3 separate regions of the Homo sapiens genome follow, and all the other regions are linked to region 2. A link means that fine-mapping ties the variant in region 2 to the expression of a gene that starts in the linked region. Tissue or cell type: whole blood. Region 2 holds a variant in brackets; each other region holds the start of a gene. Each region is shown on its reference strand, or each on the opposite one. Region 1 holds the start of MXD1 (MAX dimerization protein 1). Region 2 overlaps ABTB1 (ankyrin repeat and BTB domain containing 1). Region 3 holds the start of LCP1 (lymphocyte cytosolic protein 1).

Evidence for each region. PIP is the estimated chance that this variant, and not a neighbour inherited with it, causes the effect.
Region 1: it holds the start of MXD1, and the variant in region 2 is the best candidate, but not a certain one, in a credible set for the expression of MXD1 in whole blood (TOPMed, PIP 0.85).
Region 3: it holds the start of LCP1, and the variant in region 2 is the best candidate, but not a certain one, in a credible set for the expression of LCP1 in whole blood (TOPMed, PIP 0.65).

What each region holds. Positions count from the first base shown.
Region 1 is chr2:69,909,843-69,920,017 of GRCh38, reverse strand. MXD1 (MAX dimerization protein 1) reads right to left here and starts at 4,909. Exons shown (of 6, transcript NM_002357.4): 1 at 4,615-4,909; 2 at 3,798-3,897. The coding sequence starts at 4,687. It overlaps LOC124906176 (small nucleolar RNA U13), which reads right to left and starts at 7,323; the gene lies at 7,219-7,323. RefSeq lists a silencer at 4,306-4,535 and enhancers at 5,186-5,385, 5,486-5,595, 5,078-5,683, 5,696-5,745.
Region 2 is chr3:127,673,448-127,683,622 of GRCh38, reverse strand. It overlaps ABTB1 (ankyrin repeat and BTB domain containing 1), which reads right to left. Exons shown (of 12, transcript NM_172027.3): 2 at 9,170-9,232; 3 at 9,023-9,078; 4 at 7,509-7,653; 5 at 7,192-7,351; 6 at 7,042-7,087; 7 at 6,540-6,656; 8 at 6,337-6,455; 9 at 6,060-6,158; 10 at 5,780-5,947; 11 at 3,438-3,638; 12 at 2,697-3,354. The coding sequence ends at 3,148. Among named protein-coding and RNA genes, the nearest start is that of ABTB1, 5.6 kb to the right of the region's middle. RefSeq lists an enhancer at 327-862. The variant C/G (reference allele first, on the strand shown) is at 4,913.
Region 3 is chr13:46,177,065-46,187,239 of GRCh38, reverse strand. It overlaps LCP1 (lymphocyte cytosolic protein 1), which reads left to right and starts at 5,063. Exons shown (of 16, transcript NM_002298.5): 1 at 5,063-5,129. RefSeq lists an enhancer at 4,971-5,400.

The sequences.
Region 1 (10,175 bases), not on the chromosome of region 2:
AAACAAAACAAAACAAAACAAAACAAAACAAAACTTTAAAATGGTCAGGCATGGTGGCTCAGACCTGTAATCTCAGCACTTTGGGAGGCTGAGGCAGGAGAATTGCTTGAGCTCAGGAGTTGGAGACCAGTGTGGGCAACACAGCAAGAGCCCATCTCAATTAAAAAGAAATAAAAGCTTTACACTGATTCACTTGGTTATCCCTCAGCATTCTCCAGTCACATTGTTCTGAAGGTTTATTGCCTTCAATGGCCAACAGGATACTATAGTTAACAAGAATCTGGCATATACTGCAAACCTTTGGCTCTAAAGCACGTGGCATTTTAACTTTAACCGGGACTAGTAAGTTCAAAGCCTGACAGATTTTTTTAAATGGATGAAAGTAGATGGGCATAGTGGGATCCCAGCACTTTGGGAGGCTGAGGTGGGTGGATCACTTGAGGTCAGGAGTTCGAGACCAGCCTGGCTAACCTGGCGAAACCCCGTCTTTACTAAAAATACAAAAATTAGCCAGGCATGGTCACATACGCCTGTAATCCCAGCTACTCGGGAGGCTGAGGCAGGAGAATCACTTGAACCCAGGAGGTAGAGGTTGTAGTAAGTCGAGATGGTGCCACTGCATTCTAGCTTAGGCAACAGAGCGAGACTGTCTAAAAATAAATAAATAAATAAAATAAAATGGATGAAAGTATATGCCAACAGTTGGTTGAGATTACCCTCTTTAACTGTAGACAAGGACCACCCCTTGTAGGTGGAGGAGAGGAAAGTGAATAGGTTGAGAAGAGAGTAGAAAATAACAGCACACAGGAAATTCTTACCAAAATATTTCTGGATTCTTTGAAAATATATAAACTAATAAATAGAGTTATATACTTATGCAAAATTCTGAATCCCCAAAATAAACTTTTAAACAAACTCCATAGGAAGCACAACTTCTTCCAAAATTTGAACAAAATTTTTAAAACTACAGATTTTATTTGATTACTCGAGTGTTAAACACATGGTGCTTTTTAAAGGGGGACTTGTACTTAATGGCTAGAGCATTACTGAAGTGCATCTAGTTTACTGAAACTGAGTTATTAATAAAAAGCAGCCCTTTCAAAAATGATCAGTTCCGAGACTGCCAGCCACCTCCATTGATGGGTAAACATTTACGTTTTTAATTAAAGCACTGTAAGAACACACTGATACCTTGTGTCAAAACTATTTTCCATGTGATTATGGAAAACAATGGATAACTCTGGAATCACTGATAAAGGTCAAATTTCACCATTTAAAAATACACTCTAATAAAAAAAAACTAAGCCAAATTACGGCGTATCTGAGATAACCAGGAAAAATTCTTGGGTTCAAAAACACTCCTCATGTCAGGTCACTCTAGCCACTGTCTTATAAAACAACTGGGTGGCAAGTCCTGAACTTCCTCTTTCACGTGAGTGCCAAAGCTTGCTTTACTCATTGAACAAAACACACTTTTAAGAAGTTCTAGATTTCAATTCTAAATAATTAGTAATTGACTTCAAAAATCAGTAGGAAAGAAACTTCCATCTTCCCATATTCCAGCAGTTCTATGGATAATTTCAAAAACAATTGATATTCACAATTTCATTTTCATTTTTGTTGTTTTAATAAGCAACTAGAGAAACGTGAATAAGATCTGCATTTTCAGTTCCCAAGAAGTTTCCTATGTGGCAAAATCTTATCTTTTATTGTCCAAGGAAAAGTACTTCCCTAGACTCTACAAGCAAAAAGCACAGCATTTCAACCTGTAAGAACAAGAATAAACTGTTATCCAAGGGTTATGTAAACCAGCAGTAATCTCTCCCTATCCTTTACCTCAGTTCAAAATTCTGACCATACATGGCTGAGGATATAAAGCCGATTCAAACCATGGGGTCAAGCTGCTTTCTCCATTATGATTGCTTGTTCCTCAGAAAAGGAGCTATTCCAAATGAGTCATGAAGGAAATGATCACACTGAAAGAAAACTGCCTGCTCTTGCCTCACACGTTTGGCTGGTGCTACCTCTAGGTTTAATCATGGTCTCTCAGAAATCCTTACACCACTGAATATATTACACTAACTCACTATCAGTCAGGTGTATGGACAACTGTGATAATCCCGTCTCTAACCATGGAAAGCAAACCAACCCATTAACAGAAGGATTTGTAGCCTTTATTTTTTTTTTTTTGGCATAGTACTGATTATTAAAGAGAAGATACTAGAAAGAATCCATTTCTTGGCTTAAGATTCTTAACTACTATTATTTTTCTTTCCTAATCACCTTTTGGGACCAAGCCACTTCAACATCTCATTTTCTTATCCCCACTAGTGAACATCCCCTACAACCTTCCTGTGAAACTAAGGAAAAAAACAAAGTGTTAAGGTATTAAGCCTCAATAAGTAACTTGGACAATTCCTCTCAAATCATTAGTGGACAATAATAAAAGCAAAAATGGATGATGCTTTTCCAGAAAAATTAACTGAAAGGCCTCAAAATTCTTCTAAACAAAATTAAAAAAATATTGTAACAAAATGCAACACAGCTTAATTGGTTTTACACCATTGCATATTACAAGTCAGTATTAACATCTTTCTTAAAGTGCCTTCATACCCATGCACAAAACTACTGGCTACCACCTTCAGGTAATGCTAAGGTGGGAGGACAAGCAAAACCTACCAGGTAATTACCAGGTTGATCCTTCAAGTGCCATTTTTATTCAAGGGCATGGCACAAGTAATGCTGCTCACATCCTGTGGTTCCACTAACGATACTAAAGAGGTAAACCAAGTACAGAAGACGCAGCAAGAACAAGTGATTTTTAGGTTTAAGTGGGAAATTCCTGGTCTGTATTAAGCCACAGAGGATATCCAAATAGATACTTGCAAGGAGTTATTCATGAGGGTGAGGGAGGGATAAGGATTCTAAACTAGTGACGAAAAGGTCAATGCTTTTAATTTACTGGCAGGAAAGGTATAGTTGAAGGGATCTAATAGAACAAATTTCCTAGCCAACTATATTTTAAGGGCAAAGAAGGGGGGAAACGGGCAGCAACATTGATGGACTATTTGCATGTACCAGAAACTATGCATAGGACTTTAATATGTGATTTAACTGACCATGAACCAAATCTCCAGTGAGATTCACAGCTTTTAAGAACTACGGTATAAGATAATCGATAAGGCTAACATGGAAAAGTTGTAGCATATTAATATTTTGGTATTATATATTCCTCTATCACTAAAGAGGTAGGTTTTAACCTCAATCATTCCTCTTTGCCATTACAAATAGAGATGACAAATTAGAGTATCAAACAAACCACTGTATTTAATTTACATGTCAAGTATGAGATCCTATCACTTATGCCAAGTCAGGTACTTTAATGTGTTTATAAAATCATTACTATGAAAAGTAAAAGAAATGGATAATGTCCAGCATTTTGACTTATAGAAAACTTGCCCTGAATCTGCAACTTCTGAAGGGAAAATACTGTCACCATTGCTAATCTCACTTGAAGCTTCCACAGATTTTTTTGTTCCAAAAGGGAAGAAAAGTGAAATTAAATTTTGAATAAAGTTCATAAAGAAATGTAAAACATTTCTATTTTTCTTTTCAGTTCCCTCAACCCAAACAGAAACAGCTTCCTGCAATGGCTTAAGTCCATGTGTACATTACTGAATCATGACGGCCACAATGTAATTTTATAGGGTTATAATCACAACAGAAAACTTACATTCAGCAGTTTGTGTCACCTACAATATAATCTAAAAGACAGAAAGAAGTATTTACCAAATTACCTGCTACTGCTGTTATTCTTTTTGGATTTGTTCCTCCGTTTTAAGGCATCTCTGTCCTTGTTATTGTATGGTAACATGGAGGCATAACCATGTTCAGCTTCTAGAAAACAGGAGGATCCAGTTAATGAATGGGCCCAGAATATTTAATGCTCTCTCCTCTCTACAGTATTTCCTTTTTCCTTTATTTATCTTTAAAAGAATATTGTGGAAATAATTAAATGGAGTAAGGTGGAATTCTGAGAACAATGATTTAAAAAAAAATTGTGTGAATATCGTCAATTCGGAGCAGGTGTAAGGAGGATTCCAGCTGCTCATTGTTGAGAAAGACACAGTAGTGGCTAGGCTCACGCAGCCTGGGTTTCCCACTGGCTACATCCAGCAGGTTGGTGCGGGTTAAGTGGAACCAGCTCAGGCGAAGGTGCGGGGCAAGCACCGTGAGCCGGGGACCGGGAGGCGCTGCTCCTCTGCCCAGGAGACTGGGGCGCCGGGCCCACCTGGGGGCCGGCCGGGACCAGCCCGGGTGAGGTAAACCAGGGAGGCTATCGGAGGGGGCCCCGGCCACCCACTCGTGAAGGGCTGGGGAAGGGGCGGCGTTCGGGACCCCGGCGGGCGGCAGCCCCTTCTCCACCCCATTCATTGCTTTGGGGCAGCGGCGGCTTCCCTTCGGACCGCGCGTGGGGAGAGCCAGAGGGGTTGGGAGCGCTCGCGGTCTCCCCGCCTCCAACCACCCCCGGAGCGGCTGGGCGCCCGGACCTGAGGCCGGCCCCACAGGACCCCCGGCCTCGTTTCGAGTGGACCCCTCCCCGTCCCCGTGCACCTCTCTCCCGCCGCTCCAGATAGTCGGCCGCCTCCAGCAGCATCTGGATGTTCATCCGAACCGCCGCCGCCATTCTGCACCGGGGGCCGGAGCCACGGGACCAACCCCCACTGCCCACGGGCTCGCTGCCGCCGCCGGACCGCTGTGGAGCCCGCTATGGAGCCCGCTGTGGAGCCCGCTGTGGACCCCGCGGAGCAGGGCTGAGGGAGCCTCTCTGGCAACCACGCTCGACAAGAGAGGGAGGGGGCCAGTGAGCTGGGCACCGCCGACACAGTGACAGAACCCGGAGCAGAGCAGCAGCCGCCACCGCCGCGGAGTGTTTATCCCCGACTCACCATCTCCCCGCCCCCAGCCCCTTCTCTTGACAGGCCAGCTTCGGCCGCGTTCCTCATTGGGCCCCCCAAAGAATGCCCCGCCCCTACACTTGTGCGATTGGGAGAGGGCTTCAGGGCTCCACCCCGCAAAGTCCGCTCCTCTCGCTGGTTGGTCACACTTGACAAGGCCCGGGCTCCACCCCCTCTTTCCAACTGGTGACAGGATTCGCAACTCCGCCTCGTGCTCCTTCCTTGTTTCCCATTGGTTCTATACCAACAACCCGGGCCCCCTTTTGCTTTGTTAGTATTGGCCAAGAGCTGCAGAAGGCAAGCACCTCGCCGGTCTCCCATTGGTGAAGCCTTCGGAAACCTCCCAGCTACGATGATGTCACCTTTCTCCAGGCCAGGCGAGCCCTAAGTGGCTGATGGTCAGCAGCCTGGCTGCTCCTCACCGGGTCTGGCATTGGCTGGGAGGGCCGGTCCGGCGCTGGGCGGCGCTGATTCACCAGCCGCTGCGGAGCTCTGCTCCACCCGGCCTTGCCTCGGACCTGTTGCCAAGACCTGTCCCCGGGGAAAACTTCCGGGGACCTGCCAGGCGTCCATCGAATGGAAGGCTGGCACCTCGTGTCGCCTGGGCGCTCTGCCCCGCTTGGGTTCGGGGCCGGAGCCCTCGGTCTGGTGGCCGCGGCCCTGGAGGTTCTGGGCTTCGCGGAACTCGGGCTGGCGAGGGCCCAGCCTCGAATCCTCCCGAAGAGCGGTGCAGGCTAGTGGCCGGTGAGCCGGGAGCTAGGGCAGGCGCCACGTGGCTGCTGCGGGGCTTGAGAAGAAAAGCCGGCCGTTGTTAAATGCTCGCCGCTCGGCGTTTTTTCTGCCCTCAAGAAAGAGCTGGAATCGGGCTGCAGTATACAGCATTGAGCTCATGCGCCTTTTCCGCACCCCCCTCCACCCCCGGGAAGTGATGGAATAATTAATTACTTTCACGCGAGCGGCTTTTTAAAGCTCAGAGACTTCCTGAACCTACAGAATGGCATTAAACCCTAAGATTCTTTGCTTAAATCTCTTTTGGGGTTTTCCCCTCCCTTTTAATTCTAGATGAAAACACTCACAAGATTATTGTTTTTGTTTGTTTGTTTTGAAAGGGAGTTTTGCTCTTGTCGCCCAGGCTGGAGTGCAATGGCGCGATCTCGGCTCACTGCAACCTCCTTCTCCCGGGTTCAAGCGATTCTCCTGCCTCAACCTTCTGAGTAGCTGGGATTACAGGTGCCCACCACCACGCCCGGCTAATTTTTGTATTTTTAGTAGAGACGGGGTTTCACCATGTTGGCCAGGCTGGTCTCGAACTCTTGACCTCAGGTGATCCACCCACCTCAGCCTCCCAAAGTGCTGGGATTACAGGCGTGAGCCACCGCACCCGGCCAAGAATACTCTTTAAGACGTCTGCAAATTGTGTGTTTCCGCATGGGGTGGTACCAATATAAATGCTTAATAGAATGTTACGTATACAGAACTAAAAAGGTTAAAGATCGGTCCCTAAACCTATTAAAATTTTTGAAATGAAAGCTATCTGGCAAACCAAGCTACACTGCCAATGTACTGACAGACATCTCCAATTTTAAAAGTAGAAATAAAGTTCTTGGTAGGTTGAGTCCCCAAAATACAAATGAGTAAAGCATGAACATATTTCTTTTTTTAAAAGTTTATTATTGTTGCCAATATATAATAGCTTACTATGTGTAGGTATCCTACCTACATTATCTCTAATCCTCAATATAACCCCATGAGGTAGGTTGTGTTAATTACATTTTGCACGTGAAGAAACTGAGGCCCAGGGAGGCTAAATGATTTTCCCTGTCATGCATTCAGCTGCAGACATGGAAACTGAACCTATGTATGTCTCACCCAGAGCCCAAATTACCAATCCTCCTGTTGGTAGTTGTATAAAGACAAGGTGGTTTAAACAGATTTCCAGACTGAGTCACAAAACACTGACAACTCAAGTACTGAAGAAAAAGAAAGACAAAGGTGTAAATGTAATTATGGTGGGAAATATTAAACATGTATTTTTTAATGTCCACAAACCCACTAAAATTAAATCAACTCAATAAATAGAATAAACATGTAGTAAATCATGCCTGACATATAGGCATATTCTGGTTTCAGTGGTTAACTGGATCTAAAAACTGATTCTTTATGAAAATACTAATGAAATACACATACTGAAGGTAAAGGTTTTCAAAGCACAATACAAAGTTGGAAATGAAGGTAGAAATATAACAGTTTTTTTTCTCCATATCAGACAGGTAATGTACTAACGCTGTAACAAGCTCTTTGGGAGGCACATCTCATACATGCAATGGGAACACCTAATTACTATGTTTATGAACTATAAAAGGATCTAAGTTTTAAAAGAGTATTTTTAAATTGGATGTTATTTGTAAAACAAACTTCAAAATCATAAACGAGTGCAATTCTACTAAAGTACCCAAAGTGATAATACTAAAAATGCTTTGATTTCATTATCCTGACATTTTGGATTTTGTATATATTTATATTTTCTCTTTAATTTTATTACAAACATTTGGCATATGTCTTTAGTCTCTTACTCTCAACTCTTTATTTTAACCAAGTCCTATTTCAGTATCATGACCCTTCCTCTACAATCACCCTGACCAGAAAGTCACACTTATTTTTGTCTTAAAAAGGGGGAAAAAAGGTTGAAATCTGAGCCAGAAACAGCAAATAATTTAAATGCCAACAAGTCTAGCTTAGACTCCAAACAAAAATACTACATTATATAAAAATTAGAGAATCAGCTGAAGAATAGACCATGTTCGTTCCTTGGTGGTGGATGAAATTATCAATTAGCCAGCAACACCAACTAGGGATTAGTATAATGAAGACCTTCAAAGGGTGTTTGGTGCCATCTACTGGAAATGAAGTAGTAAGTATAAAACAAAGGTTTTGAGATTCGGAGTTTTCCTAGAAATTATTTTACACAGATGTATGGAATGACCAGTTAATTAAGAAAACCTGAAAGTATAAGTTTTGAAGAAAGAACTGAGAATCCTAAGATAATGAAGAAGTGGTGACTTTCAATACCTAGTGCCTCAAAGGCATGGCCTAAGCATTGACTGACTGAGAGTCACAGCTCCAGAAATAGAAGCTGGGAATTCTAGAATGTTTGAACCAGAATTTTATGACCAGAACTTTAAATAAAAAGTTATGTGTAATAGCATAAACATGGGATGACAATAGTTTATATCTTTGAGCACATATCAAGATAAACTAATTGAGATATATACTTGAAAATGGGGAATTACAAAGACATAAAATATTAGACTTGTCAGATAATCTTTACTGCCAAGTTAATCTCTGCCCAGTCTCCTCTGGGAGGCTTATACTCCAGATGGGCATAGGACAGTATATTAAGAGGTAAATGCCAATACTGAGCAAGCAGCAGGCTCATCACACACTATGGAGTTCTCTGCCGGAGATGCCGCTTCAGAGAGCACCCCAGAGTGGCAGGGAAGAAAACTGTTACCGTATTATAATCCTGAAGTGCCTAAAAAGTTCTATCACTATGGGAATTAAAGCCCCCTATTTATAACTGAGTTTGATACCTCCTAACTACTATGACATTAAAATATATTTTGTCTTATAAGGTTTTGAGGAATTGATTTTGTTCCTCGAAGCAGATAAATCAGGATTTCAAGTTTCTGGTTCAACAGTATCATCTCTTTCTTTGTGGCTATTTTGGACACACTAATATGATACCTAACATCATAATATTAAATTTTAAAAACCTTTAAAAACACTGTTTTGCAAAAATTAGTCACTCTACAAATCTGTGATTTAGAAAATGAGGCAACAGCCAGGGGCCGTGGCTCATGCCTGTAATCTCAACACTTTGGGAGGCTGAAATGGGAGGATCACTTGAGCTCAGGAGTTTGAGACCAGACTGGGCAACATAGTGAGAACTCACCTCTACTCAAAAAATAAATTAGCTGGGTGTGGTGGTGCAGCCTGTAGTCCCAGCTACTTGGGAGGCTGAAGCAAGAGGACTGCTTGAGCCCAGGAAGTTGATGCTCCAGTGAGCATAATTGCACCACACAGCACTCCAGCCAGAGCAGGTAAACAAACAAACAAACAAAAAGGCAATGGCTAAATTGTCATATGTATATCACACAAAACACTATGCAGCAGCTTTTTAAAAGGTAGATTTATATATACTGTCAAGAAAAGATCCCTAAGGCACAGTGTTGAGTAAATAGATTGTAAAATAACCCTTACAGCATTTTCTTTTTAAAGGCCCAAACTATGTATTTTCCCAATTTCCTACTCTGCTATATACATACAGGCATGGACAAAAGATACAAAGCAAAGGATTAGCAGAAAGAATGGGCAATATCATTCTGAGTACTGTTCGAAAGGAGTTTAGCTTTGTCACGATGTTTTAAGACTGTTACAAGAAAGACGCTTGCCACAAATGATATTTCCTAAAAGAAAAAAATGTAATATTTAACTTTTCTTCTGTTGAGGCAAGATAAGTCAACTGCATATATCATAAATAAGATTTTCTTACTTTACAAGAAGGAAGAACTGAGATCCTGTTTTTTGAATGCAAGTTAAATACAAAATAAAGTACTTGGGTAACTAAAGGTAATCAGATGTAAAATGAAGATCAAGGGACTAGGTTAGTGAAAAAAGGTTACAGAACTATATTCACAAATTCAAGACATGGGTTGAGCGTTGCACTCTGTGCCAGCCACTGTGTGGTGCTGGGGCTGCAGAGCTAACCAAAGAGATCCCCCACTTCTCCGAGCTCACTGTCTAATAGAAGAACCAGACGTAATAAAAGAATATAGGGTATGTCAGGCAGTGATAAATGCGGTGAAGACAAGTAAAGGAGGGCTTGGAGAGCCACACGGAGAAACTGGAACCCTCATATATTGTGGATGGGACTGTAAAATAGTGCAGCAGCTTTGAAAGACAGTTTGACAGTGCTTTATGTTTAAGTTAAACATAGTTTCCATGACTTGGTAATTCCACTCCTAAGCATACTCCCAAGAGAACTGAAAACATGTTCATACAAAAACTTGTATACAAATGTTCTGGCACCATTCTTTCTTTCTTTCTTTTTTCTGAGATGGAGTCTCACTCTGTCACCCAGGCTGGAGTGCAATGGTGCAATCTCTGCTTACTGCAACCTCCGCCTCCTGGGTTCAAGCAATTCTCCTGCCTCAGCCT
Region 2 (10,175 bases):
AGTTCGAGACCACCCTGGCCAGCATGGTGAAACAATGTCTCTACTAAAAATATGAAAATTAGCTGGGCATGGTGGTGGGCGCCTGTAGCCCCAGCTACTCTGGAGGCTGAGGCACGAGAATCATTTGAACCTGGGAGATAAAGGTTGCAGTGAGCCGAGATCACACCACTGTATTCCAGCCTGGGTAAAAGGGCTAGACTCCGTCTCAAAAAAATAAAATAAAATAAAATAAAATAATAAAATAAAATAAAGTGAGAAATGGTGTGGTGTGGCTGGGGAATGCTGCCCCAACAACCACACAGCCTAGTTCCTGAGGGGTGGCAGTTCTCAGACTGCAGCTCTCCCTGAACAGGTGCCATAGCTGGTACACCTGGCTGTATGTATCTGCTGTATCAGTGAACCACTAAAATACCAACTCCAGATAATTTTTCCTTAAACTGCCCTCTTACTAGGGTTTTATTTAAAATTTGTTCAAGATTGGAAACTTTATGATTTCAAATAATAACATCTGTAAAAAAAGGTTTCATGTAGTAGCTCATTTTCTCCCCTAATGCATATGAAAAGAAATGCATAGGAATTAAAATTTTTTATTTAAATATTTAAATCTCTCTTGGCACACCAGGATTTGTGTGTGCTCTGAGGTGAGACCTGCTGGTGTTAGGCCACTAGCCTGGCCTCACTCTTCCCTTCCTGTGTGCCCCAGGGCAACCGGAGTGAGCCCCTGTCACTCCCGTGCTCCCACCTCCCACCCACCAGGTGGACTCAGCCTTTGTTTAACACACCAGGCTCAGGATAGGTCAAACACTAGGTAAGAGGGAGTTGCCATAATCACCCCCAGTTTGTGGGCGGGCAAACAGGCAGAGCGGTGGCCAGCAGTGAAAGGCAGACCCACGGTGGGGTTGGTCCTCTGGCCGCAGCTCAGCTCTGGCAATGCGCAGACCCCCGCCAGCCCATCCCATCTCAGGCTGTTTTCAGGATCCCAGGCCCTTGCACAAACTACAATCTCCACCCACAGGCCCTACCCAGGACACCTCCCCAACACACTCATCACCTCCTGCAGGCTGCACCATGACTTGTCCCAGCTGATCCCTCACTAGTGGTCACTTCAGACCTACAACTTCCCCCATGTGACGACCAACATGCCAGTGCAACATGGCTGAAAATGCACTGGGGAGGAAAAAGGGAAAAAATCCAAAAATACCATAGTAAAAAGGCATGAAGAGGCCGGGCATGGTGGCTCACACCTGTAATCCCAACACTTTGTGGGGCCAAGGCAGGCGGATCACCTGAGGTTAGGAGTTCAAGCTCAGCCTGGCCAACAGGGCGAAACCCTGTGTCCACTAAAAATACAAAAATTAGCCGGGCATGGTGGTGTGCACCTGTAATCCCAGCTACTCAGGAGGCTGAGCAGAATTGCTTGAACTCGGGAGGTGGAGGTTGCAGTGAGCCAAGCAAGATCGCACCACTGCACTCCAGCCTGGGCGACAGAGCGAGAATCCGTCTGAAAAGAAAAAAAAAAAAAAAAAGCATGAACAGCTGTGAAATAACTGCAGGGAGGGTGGAGACACCCGATATTAGAAGCCCTGTGAAAGAACCAGCCTTCCTTTCCTCCCCCAGGGCCATGACACGACACTGAGTTTAACCAGGTTAGAAGGCAGAGGCCTGGTGGGGGGGCGGTCCACAGGCCTGCAGCTCATCGTGAGAAACCCCCTTGGGGCTCAAATACCCCAAAATGAAGACCCAAGCAACAACCTCAGAAGCAGGAGCTTCTCTCTGAACTTTTGCCCCCTTCTCTCAGTCTCATCATCCCGAGGCTAGCCACAGAAACTAGAATCCCTCTTCCCCTAGGCGGGCCCTAGAAACCAGAGCCCCCTTTCCCCAAAGCCAGCCATAAAACCTAAAAACAGGACTCTCACTTTCCCTCTGCCGTATCTGTGTAAAAACTGGCCATAAAGTAATAATCTGATCCACCTTGTTTGACTATAGGTCATAAGACCCCCATTCCAGAGGGTCCTGCCCCACACCCAGAAGGTAGGCAGGCAGGCTGCTCAGAGAGACCAAGAAGAATCTAGACAGGCCTGGCTGCATTTCCCTGTTCAGTCAGCATAGGATCCTGCACTTTTTGCCAATCCCATTTCTACTCGGCTGGCCACACTTTGCTGAGCCTAAGCCTAACAATGGACAGCTTCCCATCTTTGGGTCTTCATTCTGAAGACGCCCATGTCTACATGCTAAATAAATTTGCGTGTCTTTTCTCCTGTTACTCTGCCTTTTGCAAGTTAATTTTTCAGTGAACCTTCAGAGGGCCAAGGAGAAAGGTCTCCCTTGGCCCCTGCAGCTTACCTTCCCATAATAAGGTAGCAGCCCCTGCAGGAAGGGCCACAAGGTCCTCCCTGGGGAAAAGACTGGCACTGGGCTGACAGAAAATGGTCATTTTGGTCCTGGCCCTCTCCTAGAATGAGGCCCACCACAACCAGCATCCATGGAGACAGGGAGGCAGGGAGCCAGGATGGGCCCAGGCCACACTGGGGTCAGTGGCAGATCTCTAGGTCTGCTCAGCCAGGTACCCTGGCCCTTGGGCTCTGGGCCAGCCTCTGCTGGGAGCCCCCAACTCTAGAGCTTCTTTCCTTGGTCACACCAGCTCCACTGGCTCCAGAAGGCCCCACCCTTCCCAAGCTGTACCCCAGGACACAGGCTCATGCTCCCACGGTGCCTTCAAGCTTTATTGCCACACACACTCCCCCAGCCCTTCCTGAATGGCCCTGTGCATGGGAACACCAGCTTAGAGAAGCAATTCAGGGCTAGGCAAGGGCCAGAGGACTGGATTTGGGACTGGGGTGGGTAGGGGGGATCTGGAGAAGGAAAGTGCTAAGACCAAAGCCCACCCCCACCCCAGGTTTCCCTGAGTGGTGTCCACCCCCAGGGTCTTGGGGGCTGGCTTGTGCATTGGGGGGAGGGGGCTCATCCCAAATGGATCCTCCCCTGGGGTCTCCAGGCTCATGGAGGGAAGAGAAGCCCCACTGAGCCCCTCGCACCCCCCATGAAGCCCTCAATGTGCAGGGAGCAGGAAGAAGAGCTGCACACAAACGCATACACATGCTTGTCTCCAAGAGAGCTCCTGGCCCCTGGGGCTGCCCAGCCAGGGGCTCAACAGTCCAGACCGATGGACACGAGCAGGTCCTCGAGTGCCCGCAGACGCTGCTGCGCCTCCTCTATGGCGCTGTAGGTCTGCACCGTGCTGGCCACGTGGAAGCGGATGTCGTCCACCAGCGGGATAGAGTCCGTCTCCTGCCGGGCTGCCACAGCCGCTGCCTCCTCCTTCACCGCCTCCACGAAGTCCTCCCGCTCCACCAGCTATGAGCGGGAAGGGCCAGCTCAGTGGAGGGGTGCCTGCCCTCTCACCCCTCCTTCCCACCCACTGCAGACCACTGGCCCACCTTCTCAATGACCTTGGCCATGTACTCAGTGCACTGGTCCTCAAGCCGCGCCAGGCGGAAGAGCTTGGCCACGCGCCACACACCCACCACAGTGTCCTCGTCTAGCATCTGAGCCAGGCTGCGGCCGCACAGCCTCTTCAGGCCTGGCAGCAGGTACATGTCGGCGACGCTCAGCACATCATAGGCTGCCTCGGGGGACAGCTGCAGTGAAGACAGGGATGAAGGTGCCCCCCGAGGTCACCAAGGGCTCCCAGGGCACAACAGCCAAGGCTAGGGCCTGTGGTGGTTGGGGGGCACTGGCGGGAAGGCTTCCAGTGGGAGTAGGAGCTCCCTGCGCATGTATGGGGTTGGGGGTCGGGGGGCTGGCCCAGATTCCCACAGGGATCTGCAGGACCGCTAGGGGGCAGAAGACTGGGGGGTTCTCCCATGCCCTGAGCAGGCTGGCAGGGCAGGCGGGAGGCAGGGCCCTCGCAGGAGCCAGGGTCTGAGCTCCGAGTTATACAGACCTGGGTCTGACACTTCTAGCTGTGGGGCCCTGGGCAAGTCACTGCACCTCCCTGTGCCTCTAGTTCCCAGTCCATGAGGTATAGATAACCATGCCTACCTGCGGGGGCTGTCAGAATGGTGGGACAGAGGCAGCTAGTCAAGACCTATGCAGGGACTCTGCCAGGGGTGGGAGACTATCTACCAGCTCCCTCCCTCTCAAGAGGCTGTGGGGACACAGAGCCCACCTACAGATACATCCTGTGCTGGATAAGACTGAAGCCCTCAGATTCAGGCCAGAGCCTGGGTGGCACAGGGAGCAAGCTGCAGACAGAGACAAGGGGAGCTCTGCGACCACATTACAAGCCATGTGCCATGTGCCATGCCACCTCCTTTACCTGGGTAACCCATGCATCTGCACAAGGCCTTAGGAAGTGACGACGAGAGCTATCCCCATGTTCTAGAGGCACAGAGCAGTTAAGTAACTGGCCCAAGATCACAAAGCTCACCCAGTGTCACACAGCTCAACCAGTATCAACCCAGGTTAAGAGCCCAAGCCACACTCTGAGACAAGGTGCCCTTTGGGTGGCGAGGCTCCTTGAAGAGGGAGCTTCTCCAGGGTGGGCAAAGGTAACCCCTGCTACAGGGGCCAGAGAGCTGGGCTGAGCTGCAGGAGATGCCCAGTAGAGGGGGTGGGAAAGATGGAGGCTGAGGGGCTGTCAGGCCGCGCGGAGGGATGGACAAGGGAGCTGCCACTGGAGATAGAGCAGCAGTAGGGACTGCCCTCTGTCTCCCAGCATGCTTCCTCCCCTTCCCCCACAAAACAGGGCCCTGGCCACAGAATGACTTTCCAAGCCTCCCTTGTTGGCAGGTAGGCACGAAGTTCTCTCCAGGGGAACATGAGAAGTGGTGCAATTTCCGGTGGCTTCTACAAAAACAGCATTGCTTGCCCTGCCTTCCTCTTCCTCCTAGAGCATGAGTTTGCCTAGGAC[C/G]CAATCTCCATGGCCAAACGCGATGCCCCAGGCAGGATGGGTAAGCTACGGCCTGTGGACCAAATCCAGCCTGTTTGTGCAAGTAAAGTTTTATTGGAATGCAGCCTCACCCACTCATCTCTGTACTGTCTCTGGCTACCTTTGCGCTACAGAGTTGAGTAGCTACAACAGGGCCATATGGCCCACAGAACCTGAAACACTCACCTTCAGAGAAAAGGTTTTTGACCTTCACCCTTAGGCATACAGGGGCAAGATGGAGGGATGACCTGATCTTCCGCAAGCCACTTGCCCTGGGGCACCCACCTCAGTCAGAAGTGAAGGAGAAACAAACTCCCCTCTTCTTTAAGCCACCAGATATGGGGATTGCTTTATAGTGCGCGCGCACGCGCACGCACACACACACTCTCTCTCTCTCTCACACACCCTGGCAGAGCAAACCTTCAGCACTCTGCTGCTGCCCTGCAGCCTTGGCTTACGGACACCTTGGGGCAGCTGGAGACAGAGGCAGGCAGCAAGGGAAGAGGAGACTGGGAACCCAGAACCCCAGGGATCTGCAGCACCACAGAGAGGAGGCTGTCCCCACCCACCCTCCACCCTCCTGCTAGAGAAGCTGAGGATCCCAAGTGGCTGACAAGTGTGGAGTGTCTGTGACACAGGCTCATCACTCATCCTCTCTCTGGAGCCCAACAAGGCTTCCTCTACCTGAAAGAAAAATCCAAAGTCCCACAGCCTTCCCCTCCAGCCTTCTCAAAACGTCAACCATGGGGCCAGCTGGGCCCTTCCACAGACCCCCAGGGCCCTGGCGCTCCCTCTCAGCCCACGGCAGCACAGGTTGTGTGCCATCCCCAGCTCTGCCTGAGCCCCCACCTCAGTGTGGTCGCTGTACATGTAGTAGAGCACGTGAGTGAAGACGTCGGGTGAGATGCCATGCAGGGTGACGGCTGGGGGGCCCCCTGAGGTCGCTGGCTCCTCGCTCTCTCGGAAGTGGTCATCCAGCAGGGCTCGGAAGTAGTCACTGCGGCCACAGAAAAAGGCCTGGGGGAGGCCGGGCTCAGGAAGTGTGAGGGCCAGGGTCTGTCTCCTGAGGAGCTAGACGGGGGCTCAGGGCAACGGGCTGGGGCCAGGGGCAACAGGAGGGCACAGGCACCTTGTGGCAGAGGAAGCTGCAGCCAGCCACTCGGAAGCAGATGTCAGGGCAGCTGTTGAAGCCGTCAGGACAAGGGAAGGGCAGCTCCCAAAGATCACCCTGGGGTACAGAAGAGGTGACCCCATCAGAGCAGTTGTTCACAGAAGTGAACGACTAGGTTCAGAAAAGGGAAGTAACTGGTCCAGGACCACACAAGGAATTGAGCCCAAGTATCTGGGCTGCCTGTCACGGCCTGCCATCCCAAAACGCCCTTCCTGCCCACCAGCCCCGCACTTACTCGGAGCTCGGGGGGCAGGGCACAATCGGCCAGCAGCGCCATGTCCTCCCGGAGGCGGGGGTCTGCAGGTGGGGGCTCGATGGTCAGCACCTTCACACACGTGCCTGGCTTAGACGCCACTACAGGGGAAGAACAACTTCAGGGAGCCAGGCCAGCCCTGCCAGGCCGCACCCATGGCCCCGGGCCCCAAACCCTGCTCGCACCAAACTCAGACACCTTCTCGCACTTGGCCTCCAGGTCGCTGAGCAGGTCCCACAGCTGGCATTGCTTGGCCAGGCGCTCACAGTCACTCACATGCTCTACGCCAATGTCCAGGCGGCCTGGGGGCAGTGGGGAGGATGAGGGCCTGCGGGACCTCAGCTGTCATCAGGCCCACAGAAAAAGGGTGATCCCCTCCCACCTGGCCACCTGGCTGCAGGACTAGGACTCCTGGGCCCACTTGCCACCATGGTTTCCCCATCAAAAGCTGTTCTACAGGCCCCAGGGAACAGATGGGAGGGCCTCAGCATGTGGGTGGGACAAGCTCTTCCTGAGCAGGCACACTAGTCCTCTCTCTTGCAACCCAACCCGAGAGGCAGCTGGAACCACCCCGGGGGGACCATGAAGTGTCTAGAGGTGAAAGGTCAGCCCAGCCACACCTAGGTGTACTGCTGTCCAGAAGGACGGCCCACTCCCTCTCCTCCTACCCTGGACCCAGGGGGTCACCTGTGTACAGGTACTGCAGCAGGGCCCCAAAGGCCACGGGGTTGATCTGTGGGCAGAAAACCAGAAAGTAATGTCAGAGGCAGCCACCCAGCACAACCTCCTGCTGTTCCTGGACAGTTCATGCCCCTCTGCCACCCTGAAGGGACATACCAGTGGGTGCCTGAGAACCACGACACTCTTGCCCTTCCATTTGGTGTCCAGCATGTTGGCAAAGTAGGCACTACGTGCACCCAGGACGCAGCGATGCACCCGGAATGGCTTCCCGTGTACTACAAAGACCACGTCACTGTGGATGCCCTGCTCTAGAAGCCTGGGGAGGGACAAGCCAGGAGGGAGGATACTTGGCACAGCCCCACCCCATTCCTCGGAGCACTCAGAACCCAGTGCAGGCCACAGTCAGAGCAGACTCGCCACACCCACCAGGGCCACCGCACCCCATGCTGCACCCCTCGTGTGCCCTGGCTCACCGCTGCAAGAAGTCGTCATAGTAATCCCGCCTCCTGCAGGAAGCCGTGACCTGCTTGTAATCGCGTAGAGCCCGGCGGATGGGGTCACTCAGTGCCCCATAGAGGCAGCGCTCACCATCGAAGGTGTTGGCCTCGCAGCGGGCTCCTGGGGGAGGCAGGGCTCACCAGTTAGCAGGGAAGGGGCCTGGGGGAAATTCTAATCTCCCTGTCCCTCCTCCCCACCTTCCCACACATGGGGCTCCGAATCTCTGGCGATGCCTTCCCAAATTACCCTGGGCCCACTCTGACCCCAACACCCTCCCAGTCAAGGGCTAGGCGAATGGGCACGTCTGTGTGCACTCACACAGGCACATACTCACTCACACGGAAGACAGACAACACAGAACGGAGAGCTGACTTGGTGGCTGGGCTTGTCCCACACACTGGAGCACAGCAGTGAACGAGACACAGGTCCCTGTCCTGCTGAACTTATACTCTAGTGAGGCAGGACAATCAACCCACTACCTAACGATGGCAGGGACTATTAAGAAAAACAAGCCTGGGCGTGGCAGCTCACACCTATAATCCAGGCACTTTGCGAGACCAAGGTAGGTGGATCACTTGGGCTCAGGAGTTTGAGACCAACCTGGGCAACATAGTGAGACACCATCTCTGCAAAAAAAATACAAAAACTTGCCGGGCGTGGTGGTGCACGCCTGTAGTCTCAGCTATTTGAAGATTTGAAGGGGCTGAGGCAGGAGGATCACTTGAGCCTGGGAGGTTAAGGCTGCAGTGAACCGAGATCACACTACTACACTCCAGCCTGGGTGACAGAGCAAGACTCTGTCTCCAAAAAAAAAAAAAAAAAAAAGAAAAAACCAAAATAGGAAGAAGAATGGCACTGAATGAAGGGAAGTCATGAAAGGTCACTCTGTAATGGTGGCAGCATGCAGAGACCTGAATGAAGGGGGAGTGGGCCATGTGAACGTTTGCAGAACGGCAGTCCATGCAGGAGGAACTGCAGGTGCAAAGGCCCTGGGGCAGGAACAGGGGCATGCATAGCACAGTGGAGCCCCAGCGAGGCCAGTGTAGCAGCAAGCAAGCAGCAAGCAAGCAGGGAGAGCCGAAGGAATGAGGCCAGTGGGAGGGCAGACCCTGTGGAGCCTTGGGCATGGCCAGGCAGGCTCACTGTATCCTAGAGGCAATGGGAACTTGCTGGAGGATTTTTAGCCGATCAGATTCATTGTGAAAAGATCAACTTGGCTGCAATGGCAAGAGAGAGGCAGGCACCGTGTCCGGGGAGAAATGCTGATGACTGGGCCCAGGTCGTAGAAGTAGAGATGGGCAAGGTGGACAGAGAAAAGGTTTTAAAGTAGCAATAATAGTACTTGCTGATTCGACTGGGTGGTAAGAGAGGAATCGTGGTGCTTTGCAAATGTGTATCAAGGCCTTTGAATGCACGCACGCATGCATGCACCCACACGCACACATGCATGCACCCACGCACACCCGTGAGCCGGGCTCCCTGCTCTCACCATTGGCCAGAAGGTAGAGTACCAGCTCCTCGTGCCCACACAAGCAGGCATAGTACCTGAAGGGAGGAAGGAAGTACAGGAGGCAGTCCTCAGTGCTGAAGGGGTGCACCAACCCCCACCCTCCCCACCCCTCTCTCCAGCACTCACAAGGGGGTGCTGTCCCACTTGTCCCGCACATTCACCTCCACGTCTCGCTGCTCCAGCAGGTACCTGGGCAGGAAGGAGGTCAGAGCCTGGGTCAGGACGGGTTCATGGTCTGAGAAAGAAGGCCCGTGGAAAGGAACGGAGAGAAAACATCCCTTTTGGTATGGGGAAGCCTCCCCCAGGTGAGGGCAGGTGACAGGCAGACCAGAGCAGGAGAGGCACTCAAGGCAAAGTGCAGGCAAGGATGTGGAGGTGGGGTCGAACAGGCAGACACTGTGTGCTATCAGTGCTGGGGGACGATGGGCTACAGGGACAGAAGCCAGAGCCAGTGCCGAGGCTGGACCTTTGGCCTTTCAGCGTTTGGGAGAGGAGGTGATGGAGCCTTCACTCCCACCAGAGCTCTCTACTGCAGGAAGAAGCTGGCCCTGTTAGAAGCAGGGAGCCCGGGAAAAAGCTGCTGCAGGCCTCCTGATGGTGTGGAGGGCACACAATTCTAGGAGGCAGGAGTCGCGGGATACAGCAACTGATGGGATGCGGAAGGTGAGCGAGGGGAGTCGCCAATGCTAATGCAGCCCCACTGAGGCGGGGGCAGCCCAAAGGAGGCCTCCAGGCTGCACCTGGAAGTGCTGTGAACCCACTCAGCGTTGACACTATGCACTAACTCTTGAGTGGCACGGGATGTCAGGGAGCGGCCCAGGGAGGCTACGGGAGTACAGCAGCCCGGCGCCAGCCCAGGGGAGGTGGAAGCAGTCAGTCAGCACCAGGTCAAGGGGGAGGAAGGGCCAAGAAAAAAGGAGGTCAAACGGGATAGTGGAAGCCCAAGGAGGGGAAGGGCCCCAGAACCCAACTGGGCACCCCTTCCCTCCGCGTCCGGCCCATGGAGGGGGCATCTCAGCGCCAGATTCACTTTAGCTGCGTCAGGAGTTTCCGAATCCTCAGGGACCGGAGGCCGATTATGGGCTCTAGGTGTTCCCCGCGCCAGGTCCAGAGAGCACGAGAGAAAGGGGCC
Region 3 (10,175 bases), not on the chromosome of region 2:
TCAGTTATGAATATTTTGAGTTACTGTAAAAGCTGAGTATTGATTTAAATAAAAGGGTATTATAAACTGTTCTGGAGGATGATGGGAAGGTTAACATGTATATGTTGGACTGGGGGATGTGAGAGGGTCAAATATTTATCTCTCAAGTAGGAAGGAAAAAATATATGAACATATATATACATATACATAAATATATGTAGGTATCTGAACCCAATCAAGATACACCATAAGCATAACATCTAGAAATATGTAATAAAATAACAGAAGAATTAGCTAAAACTGTTCAAAATACTTGGTTCTAGGGAATGGGAATCAGAGGTGAAGGAGTGTGTCGGGAGACTGGTGTTTCATGAGAAGCCTTGAGGTAATATTTGACTTCTAAAACCAAATACATATATTACTTTGATTAATAAATTAAAGAAAACATATGTCCACACGCACAAAATGTACACAAATGTTAATTGCAGCATTTTTATAATATCAAATAGTAGGCAGCATCCAAATATCCATCAGCTGATGAGTAAATAAAATGTGATATATTCATACAGTGGAATAGCATTCTTCCATAAAAAGGAGTGAAGGTCAGGTGCAGTGGCTCATGTCTGTAATCCCAGCACTTTGGGAGGCCGAGGCAAGAGGATCACCTGAGCCCAGGAATTCGAGACCGGCCTGGCCAACATGACAAGACCCTGTCTCTATAGAAAAAAAAAAAATTTAAATATCCAGGTGTGATGGTGCGTGCCTGTAGACCCAGCTACTCAGGAAGCTGAGGCGGGAGGATGGCTTGAGCCTAGGAGTTCAAGGCCTCAGCAAGCTATAATCACACCACTGCACTTCAGCCTGGGCGACAGAGTGAGCCCCTATCTCAAAATAAATGAATAAATAATAAAATGAAGTAGTGACATGTTACAACATGGATGGACCTTGAAAACATGCTAAGTGAAAGAAGCTCGTCACAAAAGAGCATGTATTGTGTAATTCCCTTTATATGAAATGTCCCGAATAGGCAAATTTATAGAGAGAGAAAATAAACTAGTGGTTGGCTGTGGCTGGGAATTTGGGAGATGGGGGTGAATGGGGAGGAATCTCTAACAGGTACAGAGTTTCTTTTGGGGATGATGAAAATGTTCTGGAATTATATAGTGTAATTGTTGCACAACTCTGTTAAAATACAACAAACCACTGAATTGTATACTTTTTAAAGGTGAATTTTATGGTATGTAAATCATATTGCAATGAAGCCATTATTTTAAAAATTAAAGAAAAAAATTAACAATCATACCTAATTCATAGAGTTGTTGTGAGGAATAAATGAAATAATGGATGTTAGGGGTCTAGTCCAGAGCCTGACGTAAATATTAAGCGATTAGTTAACACGTACATAGGATATACTACGTGCCAGGCACTCTTCTAAGTTCTTTACATATATCAATTCACTTACCCCTTGCAACAACTGTCTAAAATAGACACTGTTCTTACCCCCATTTTATAGACTAGGAAACTGAGGCCAGTGCAAGTAACTAATTTGCCCAAGATCACACAGCTAGTACAACAGTAGAGCTGGAACTTGACCCCAGCCAGCTGGCCCAGCATCTTTACTCTTCACCACTTTGATGCTCCCTCTCTCTGCCTCCCAGGTCCCATGTCTGGGTTAGTGCTGTGTGCTCCTAGGGACGCTGCTTTTCGTCTGTTGTGCTTCCAAGTAGATAACTCTTCACTTGCCTTTTTTCCTTGTCTGTGTCTTCAACTACAGTGGACATTCTACAATGGCAAGGACTGTACCCATCTTAATTCATCTTCATTCCCTGCCCATGATATGTTGGGATGAGGGTGGGCTGCAGAGTGAAGCAAAGGTGTTTTTCTCTTCATACAAATCCCATGAGTGCATGGAGAGGAAGTGGGGAGAGCTGAAGATGCTAGCATTAAGATGCTAGAGAAACACGAGACAATTGATGGAGCAAGATATCTAAGGAAGTAGAATATTAAGAGTGAGATAGTGTTGAAACACTGACCTTGGGAAGAAAGAAGAATGCCGCTTCCATTAAGACTGAAAGAGAGGAGGAAGAGGTGGATATTGTGGAAGTAGAGAGGAAGCTCATACCAGACGACTTGGATCATCTCAGTCAAGAAGGGGCAACAGAAGAATCTTGGGCCAGGACAAAGCATAGGAGGGTGAAGTGGAAGGTTGAGGCAAGAGGAGAGAGTTTAGAATAAATACCCAACTTTTTGGGGTCTGTGATCTCTTTACTAATACAATGGACCCTTCTCCCAGAAAAAAAGTACATACACACAAAATTGTGCATTTAGTTTTAGGGGTCTATGGACTCCAGGTTGAGAATGCCTGTTCTCAAGACTTAGTAAAATTGAATAGAAGTATTTCTGAAAGTAATTTGAAGTCAAGCATCTTGACTTTTTAGCATTCCAAGTTTGTGTTTCTGTGACTTTCCTCAGCAATATTTAGAGGCCTGAGAGTAGCAGGTGATCTGATATCTGGGACTGAGGCCAGAGGCTTCAGGGCAGGAGAGGGTGGGATGAAGTCTGAGAGGGTGGTAGGGCTTAGAGGAAGGCAAAACCCAGGCCAGGAACAGGTGGCAGTGGAGGCTCATAGAGGGTGGGCTGAGAAAGGTCCACTCCGGCTTCAGGCCATAAGGGGGCGCACTGTCTGTACAGAACATAAAAACGTAAGAAAACCAAAAGTCAGTCTTCTGTTTACTAGTACTATGCTGCACAAGCAATTTAAAACACCAACAGCAAAAAAATACACTTCTCTGAAAAAGTCTTGGTCTAGGACCTAAACAATTGCCTGAAACTGGGTAGACTTACACCAATGAGAGGCAGATAAAGAGATTAAGATTGAGGGAGTAGGGCAGGGCTTGCAATGGTGCCGGCCAGGATGTGGCTGAGGGGGTGTGGGTGCCTGCCGTGGATGCTAGGGTAGAAGACGACTCTATTAACTGGGTGGCTGTAAGCAGTACCCAGGTCAATGCCTTTCATCTTCTACAACCTCGACGTTGCCTGGAATCCTAAATCTTTTTCTTCACTTAACAAACATCACCTCTGCTCAAATCTGCAACTGCTTTGATATCACACTGCCTTTTTCACCCCTCTATTATAGATGGCATTTATTTACTTACATGTTTTTTCCCCACTAGACTATACTCCTTGAGAACAGCGATTGTGTCTTATTTATTTCTGAATCACCAATTCAGACAGGCATGCAAACACTTGCTGAACCAATGCACAAATATATTTTGCTCTTCTTCATAGATTCCTCCGGCCTCAGATGACCAGGCACCACTAGATACAGAACACTGTGCTTTCCTTCTCCAAGGTAAAGGAATAAATATCTGTTCCCCTTCATGAAGTGTTACTGTTGGGCCTTTATGCCATCCTGAAGCCACCAGGATGTGGAACCAGATCAGGGAGGTCCACAGTTACAACCCCTTGTATCTGTAACACCAGCAGGACATTATCTACAGAGTCCTGCTGCAGGGCCCCGAATGAAGACAGCATTTTGCTGCTTTGTAGCGTGAGCAGTGCTGTAACAGTGATGCATGGATGTTCCTCTGGTGTCCTGAAAGAATGTAGGTGCTTCTTGAAAGCTCTCTGCAACTTATTAATTGGGAGTGATTATGCGATGGAGAAAACAGAGTCCCATCACCCCCTCAGTCTTCCCTGGGAAATCACAAGAGGGCTGATAGCTCTCTGTGAGGTGAACCGTTTCTAGAATCCCCACCGTCTCGTCCTGTTCTTCCGCCCACCCAGTTCCTCAAGATAGCCCCTGTGGGCTTCTGATGAAGTCACCACACCACTGGCTAATGAAGTAGATAAACCAGAACAGTTTGGTTTAACATTTAAGGTCAGAAACAGGAACTTTCTAGAGGAGAAATCAAAAAAGCAAAAGAAGTATAAGGGCAGCCCTCCAACCAGTCAGAATACCGTGACCACCTGAGAGGCCCGTGGCCCAGCGGACACGGACGCATGTCAACTCTGGAGCAGATATCTTCAGCGCAGCATCTGACCTGGGAGTACAGCCACATACCCTCATTCCTAAACGGCAGATTGACTACTGGAGTCACACACAGTCTCCGGGCAATGTGGAGACATGTCTAATATTTAGTCAACATAACTCAGGGTGCCACAGTCTTCACAACTGTTGTGAGCACTTGAGGATGCTCCATTTGAAGATAGGAATTTGCCCTCAAGCATCTGGGGTTTGGGTACAGAACAGAGCTTCCCCTGCCACCACCTGCTAATTTTATAAAATGTGCATTCAAAAAAAAATCCTGCCTGTAAGAAGGAATTAAGCTACCCATTTAAATATAACAGCTGCCTGTGCAATCTACTGCTGCTCTTTATAGGAAACGCTTAAATAATTGAGATACTTAATTGGGTTAAAGAGATCCCTAGCACATAGATGTTCTATAAATAAAAGAATGAGTAAATAATCTAGTAACCTTCCTTTTCATGTCCTTCACTTAAAGAGATCGTTCTGTTTTGTTTGCACCAATAAGATCACTGTTAGAGGACTCCAGAGAGGTTTGATTTCAGGTGGGGTGGGGCTTTCCCAAGGAAGTCCCTTTTCATTTGTTTCAGGTGTACTGCCACCTTTTTCCCTGGCTCTTTCACTAAAAATGAAAAATTTGTTGATCTTTGCTGTAAGTAGGTAGGCATCTGGGCTTTGCTTTTGCAACTAGAGTCAAAGAAGTCAAGTTATCAGGCTGATCTTGCCTTGCTATCTAGAATCAGAAAGGTTTAAGTAGCCCAGGGACTACTCAAAGACAGCTGGAGGAGAAAGGGAGAGAGAAAAATGCTTATAAAGAGGTGGGCAAAAGAGCGGGACCTTGTCTCAAAAAAAAAAAAAAAAAAGAGGAAGTGGTAGGAGGTGTCTGAATTTCACTGTGACCTGTTCTGTCAGGTGATTTTTGGTGGGGCGGGGACATGAAAAAAAAGTTAAAATGTCCTTATAAAGACAAAATCTTTTTCTTTCCTGGCTGATGATTTGTCATTCTAGTCACTTCCTGCCTTGTGACCACACACCCAGGCTTGACAAAGCTGTTCTGCAGATCAGAAAGAAGGGGTTCCTGGTCATACACCAGTACTACCAAGGACAGCTTTTTTCCTGCAAGGTAAATGTTCTTCATGTGTTTTTGTTGGTTTTAAGCGCTTGTGATGCACTTCGGCACTGTTTCTGTGGATTGTGGGTTTTGCCTTCAGGGGACCAGAGATCTGAGCATGTCACCTGAGACCTCTGTGATTCCTGCCACTGTCTAACTGGCCAGGACATCTGCCGCCACCTCGCGTGGCCATCCAAGATGGAGCACCTCGGCTCTCTGGGCTGGGTTCTTCTCAACTTATCTGCAGTTATCACCCCTGCCCAAAATTAAGGTTTCTTTTTCCTTTTAAAACCAAACCATGTTCTGGTTTATTTCTATTGCTCTATTTCACGGAGGCTATTTACTGTGATTTTATCTTCTTTAAAATGTTTTCAGGAAAAGCGCGTATTGATAATTTAGATTGTATGGCTTATTGGCCCAATGGGGGTAGTTTAATTTTAGTTCCTGCGGTTCTGTTTTTCTAAAAAACTTCTTTACAGTACTTTAGTGGATAAATTATCTAGAGTCATATGTTACTGAATGTGATACTGGTTATTTGAGTGATTTTTGGCGCCAAGGGTTTTTAATGGGTGTGCTTTATAACCACATGGAATTAGAGGTTTTCTCTTTTCCATTTGTTCTCTAAAAATAAAAGCAATTTGTATAATGCTTAATTGTAGTGTTTTTGTAGGATTGTCTGAATTATTTGTTATGCTTATGACCATATCAATGAATATTCACTCAAATTCTGGGAGAAAGGCTTTTATCTACAATAGAAATTTTTACACAGTTGATATGGGATATTTATTTCAGAAACTGCCCAAACATAGACACTTTGGATTTTGTAGTATAAGCTTTTACTTAATTACCACTATCACATAACACTAAGAACCATTGACAAATGATAACTATAAAAGCCATTCAGACTGGAAATGCGAACATTAATCAGGATGTTTATCAAAACCGAACTTTTCTTTTACACAGCAACTTGTTTTCTAAAATTACTCTGTCAGAACTATCAGTAAGCAAATAAAGGTGGCTTATCCACACACATCTTGATTTTGAATTTACATACATTTGTCATAAGTTTGGTTTCTATTAAGTATAATTGTTTAAAGAATGTCTGTGTAGACAAATTTGAATAGAATTAATCATTTACCTATAAATGTGAATTTCTGGAAACTGCAAAATGTGACCACCAATGTTACTTTGCACATCTCACCTGAATAGTTTCAAACAAGCAAAAATGTGAAACTGAGATAAGAGGGACTTGAACCCCGTAAAAGAACAGACTAAAAATATGTTGTGTCTTATTTTAAGTAAAACTATTAATGAGAATAAAATAAATTCGAATGTGAAGGAATGTCAGTATTTTTCTTATATTTACGAAGGAATAAAAAAGAACTATGCGAAAGTTAATTCAAAATATAAAGGTCCCCTGTTTAAAGTTAAGTTTACATTGCTAAAGCATCAACCCCATATGTTACAAAGATATTCCTCTTCATTCTAGCTCACCCCCAGGAACATCAGGGGAAAAATCTTCTAGGTCTTGCCCTTTGAACAAGCACTGCTGTGGTGGGATGGAGTTGTGCCTAGGAGGACATTTCCTTAGCAATCCCAGAGACCCTTTTCTTTGTAGCATTTAAATTTTTGTCTCTTTTGTAAATTATGCCTTGAAACAATTGGTAATTTGGGAAACAATTTCAGTGCTTTAACTTCATTTATAATTCTATCTCTGAACCCTTTGGGGAAGGGAAGACCAACAAGTAAAGTCTCATTTACTTGTTGTTAAAGTACCATTTAACTTGGAGAGGACAGGAAATTAATAATAGCACTCAATAATTATGAGCACGTAGTGTAAGCAGCTACTCTTTATGCATTACCTCGTTTAATCCTCTCAGCTACCTTTAGAGATAAGGAATGGGCTAGATAATTGAAGGAACCGGCCATAGGTCACTGGGCAGTTGGGGTGGGGGGCAGTAGATGGCCAGGATTTCAGGCTCCTACTGACTGTGTGTGTTACAGATCCTCCCTTCCAGGCCAGCATATTTTTCTCAGAGGTAGGTGATTATAGACTTTTATTACTGAAGCTAGCTAACAAGATCTTGGCACTCACAGTTTTAAGAGAGAATAAAAGAGAGAGAGCAAGAGAAAGAAGAGAGAGAGAGAGAGAAGAAAAACTTTGTAATAAATTTACAAACATTTTTATTTTTATAAATAAGAGATACCATTGCAGGTTTTATATAATAATGGGCTGAAGAACTATTTTTAAATTAATGCATAATTTTACTAAAGAATTGTGTGCCTTTACAAACTTGCCTCGACCCACTTCCCCAATCTTATTTCTTGTCACTTCCTTCTGTTCAACCTCCCACTACCCCATCCCCTCCCCCGCCACTGCTAACCCACATTTTGGTGCACCAGACCACAAGCCACCAGAAAGTTCCATTCTCTTTCACCTTTTTTCACTGCAACTGTTTCTTTAATTGCATTCTTCTTTATTTTTAAAACTTCTGATCATTTTTCAAGGCGGACTTCAAGAAACATACCCTTTTGGAGGCCTTCCCATCTTCTCCCTGCCCCCACTAAATGTTTCTTTGGTGTGCATTTGCTCAATGCTTTGATCTTGGAGTAAGTATAACATTAATCACATTGTCTTAGTTTCAAGTACTTATTTGCTGACAGACCTGAGCTCCTTCTCCATCTTTCCTGGCACATGTAGATACTAAAGGCATTTATTGAATTGAAAATTTGTCACAAGTATTTTTTTTCTCAGCTTCTTACATACGCATGAAAGACTTTGATTGTACTTATTAACTTAATATTTACTGAGTTTCCATTTATTGCTATGAATGAAGATGCAACAATAATATAATATTTTGCATTCTACCATGTTTCAGCTTTACCGAAGCCCTAGTCTCATTTTAGCTTCAAAGTATCATATAGACATTGACCTCAAGAAATTTAAAAAATTGTACAATGACTAACAAACAGGGAAAATTACAATCTCATTTTTTTAGTATAAATACATTGGTTGGGCCAAAACTTAGCTACCCTTGCCAAAACTATATACCCAATAATGGGCCTCTTTGATGACAAAGAACACAAGGGCAGTTGTTAACTTTTACTTAGTCACTTTGGATTATTCTCAGAAAATTCTCAAGTCAACTTCTCCTTGTTACCTAAAGAGTACAGGCCCTTCTGTGTATACAGGAGAGATGGCAAGCAACTTTTAAAATCAGCTTAGGTAAAATAAAATTAAGAAATCTGCTTATAAGGTTATACTTATGAAGAGTCAAACACTTATAAAATAAGATTATAAAGGCTTGGACTTTATTACTAATAGTAGATTTTATAGTAGAGTGACATTATTTCAGTTAATCTAATTTTCTTCCTAGTGTTTTTTTATCTGCTAGTTTCCCAACTTACAGATATCAAATGAAATGATACTATTTCATCTGTATACTGAACACTGCAGAAATAAACATTAGAATTAGGACACATCAAAATATAAAACTAATCAGTGTCCACAGATTTGAAGAGTTTCAAGTGTTCCTATTTTGCCAGATGGAAGCGCACTCCTTAAAAAAGTGTTAATGTTCTACAGGGTCTTCATTTTGAGGCTCTCGGAAGTCACCTCCTGATTAGATGTTGGTTTCCTAGGGATATCTCCCTATAGCTGCTGTGGCCGTGGTGTTCCCCAGATGGCATCTCCTTGTTGCTTTCCTCAGTTCCCTTCTGATCCAACTTCCTGCCTTATACTATTGACTGTTCCTGTTGTTTTGGTTTGTCAGTTTCAATGCTTACATCAGTCTGCCCAGAAATTGCATAACTGCTCCATCTTGTAAGATATCGGTGGGGGATGGGGGGGAGTGGAAGGCGCTTCAATTAATCATCCTAATAATAACGTTAATACTTACATTGAATCAGGTGTTTTTCTAAGTGCTTTAACCCTATGAAAGCATTTAGTTGTCATACAGTCCTGTGAGGTAGTGTCTGGTGTCCTCTTCATATTTGAAGGCAAGTTCATTCATTCACGTATTTTATTTAATTTTCTACAATTGGATCAATTTTGTCTTAACTGTTGAATTTCAAGGCAACTTCCTGGAATAAACAGGTAGCAAACCATGGTGCTTATTTGTAACTAAGCCCTCAAGTTGAGCTCAAATAATCATAATACTTCCCCAAATAAATGCATCTATATGATAAGTGCTTTTATAAACAAATTATTCTGTGTCATCATATCATCATCATCATCATTATCATCACCATCAGCAGCAGCAGCAGCAGCAACAGCATCAGTAGTCAGCCCCTCTGTACACTTGACTGAGTAGAAGTTGGTTGTTAACAATTACAGGCCTCTGCATGGGTCACAAAACATGATCTCCACCCTCAAAAACTTTAAAAGGTTCTTAGTCTTTTGTTTGTTTGTTTGTTTGTTTTTTGAGACAGAGTTTCACTCTGTCGCCCAGGCTGGAGTGCAGTGGCGCGATCTCGGCTCACTGAAACCTCTGCCTCCTGGCTCACCCAGGCTGGAGTACAGTTGCGTGATCTCGGCTTACTGAAACCTCCGCCTCCTGGGTTCAAGCGATTCTCCTGCCTCAGCCTCCCGAGTAGCTGGGACTACAGGCGCCCACCACCACGCCCGGCTAATTTTTTGTATTTTTAGTAGAGACGGGTTTCACCTTGTTAGCCAGGACGGTCTCGATCTCCTGACCTCGTGATCTGCCTGCCTCGGCCTCCCAAAGTGCTGGGATTACAGGCGTGAGCCACCGCGCCCGGCCTTTAAAGTTTAGAATAATTTTAGTCAAGTGGCATTCACATTTTCTAGTCTGTTGTGACTGATAGACATGAATAGATTAAACATTCTACTTTTTATACCCAAGTACACATATCTATGATTGTATAGTAATGGCCAAATATAAGTGTCCTAAAAACTGAGAAAGAATGAAACATTGCTTTAAATGTTAGTGGAAGAAGAGAGGTAAAAGTGAACCACTTACTGGGTTTAAGTAAGTTTTGCTCAACTTCAGAGCCATGGCTGTGTCAGCCCCACTTGCAAGTACAAGGAGCCTGTTA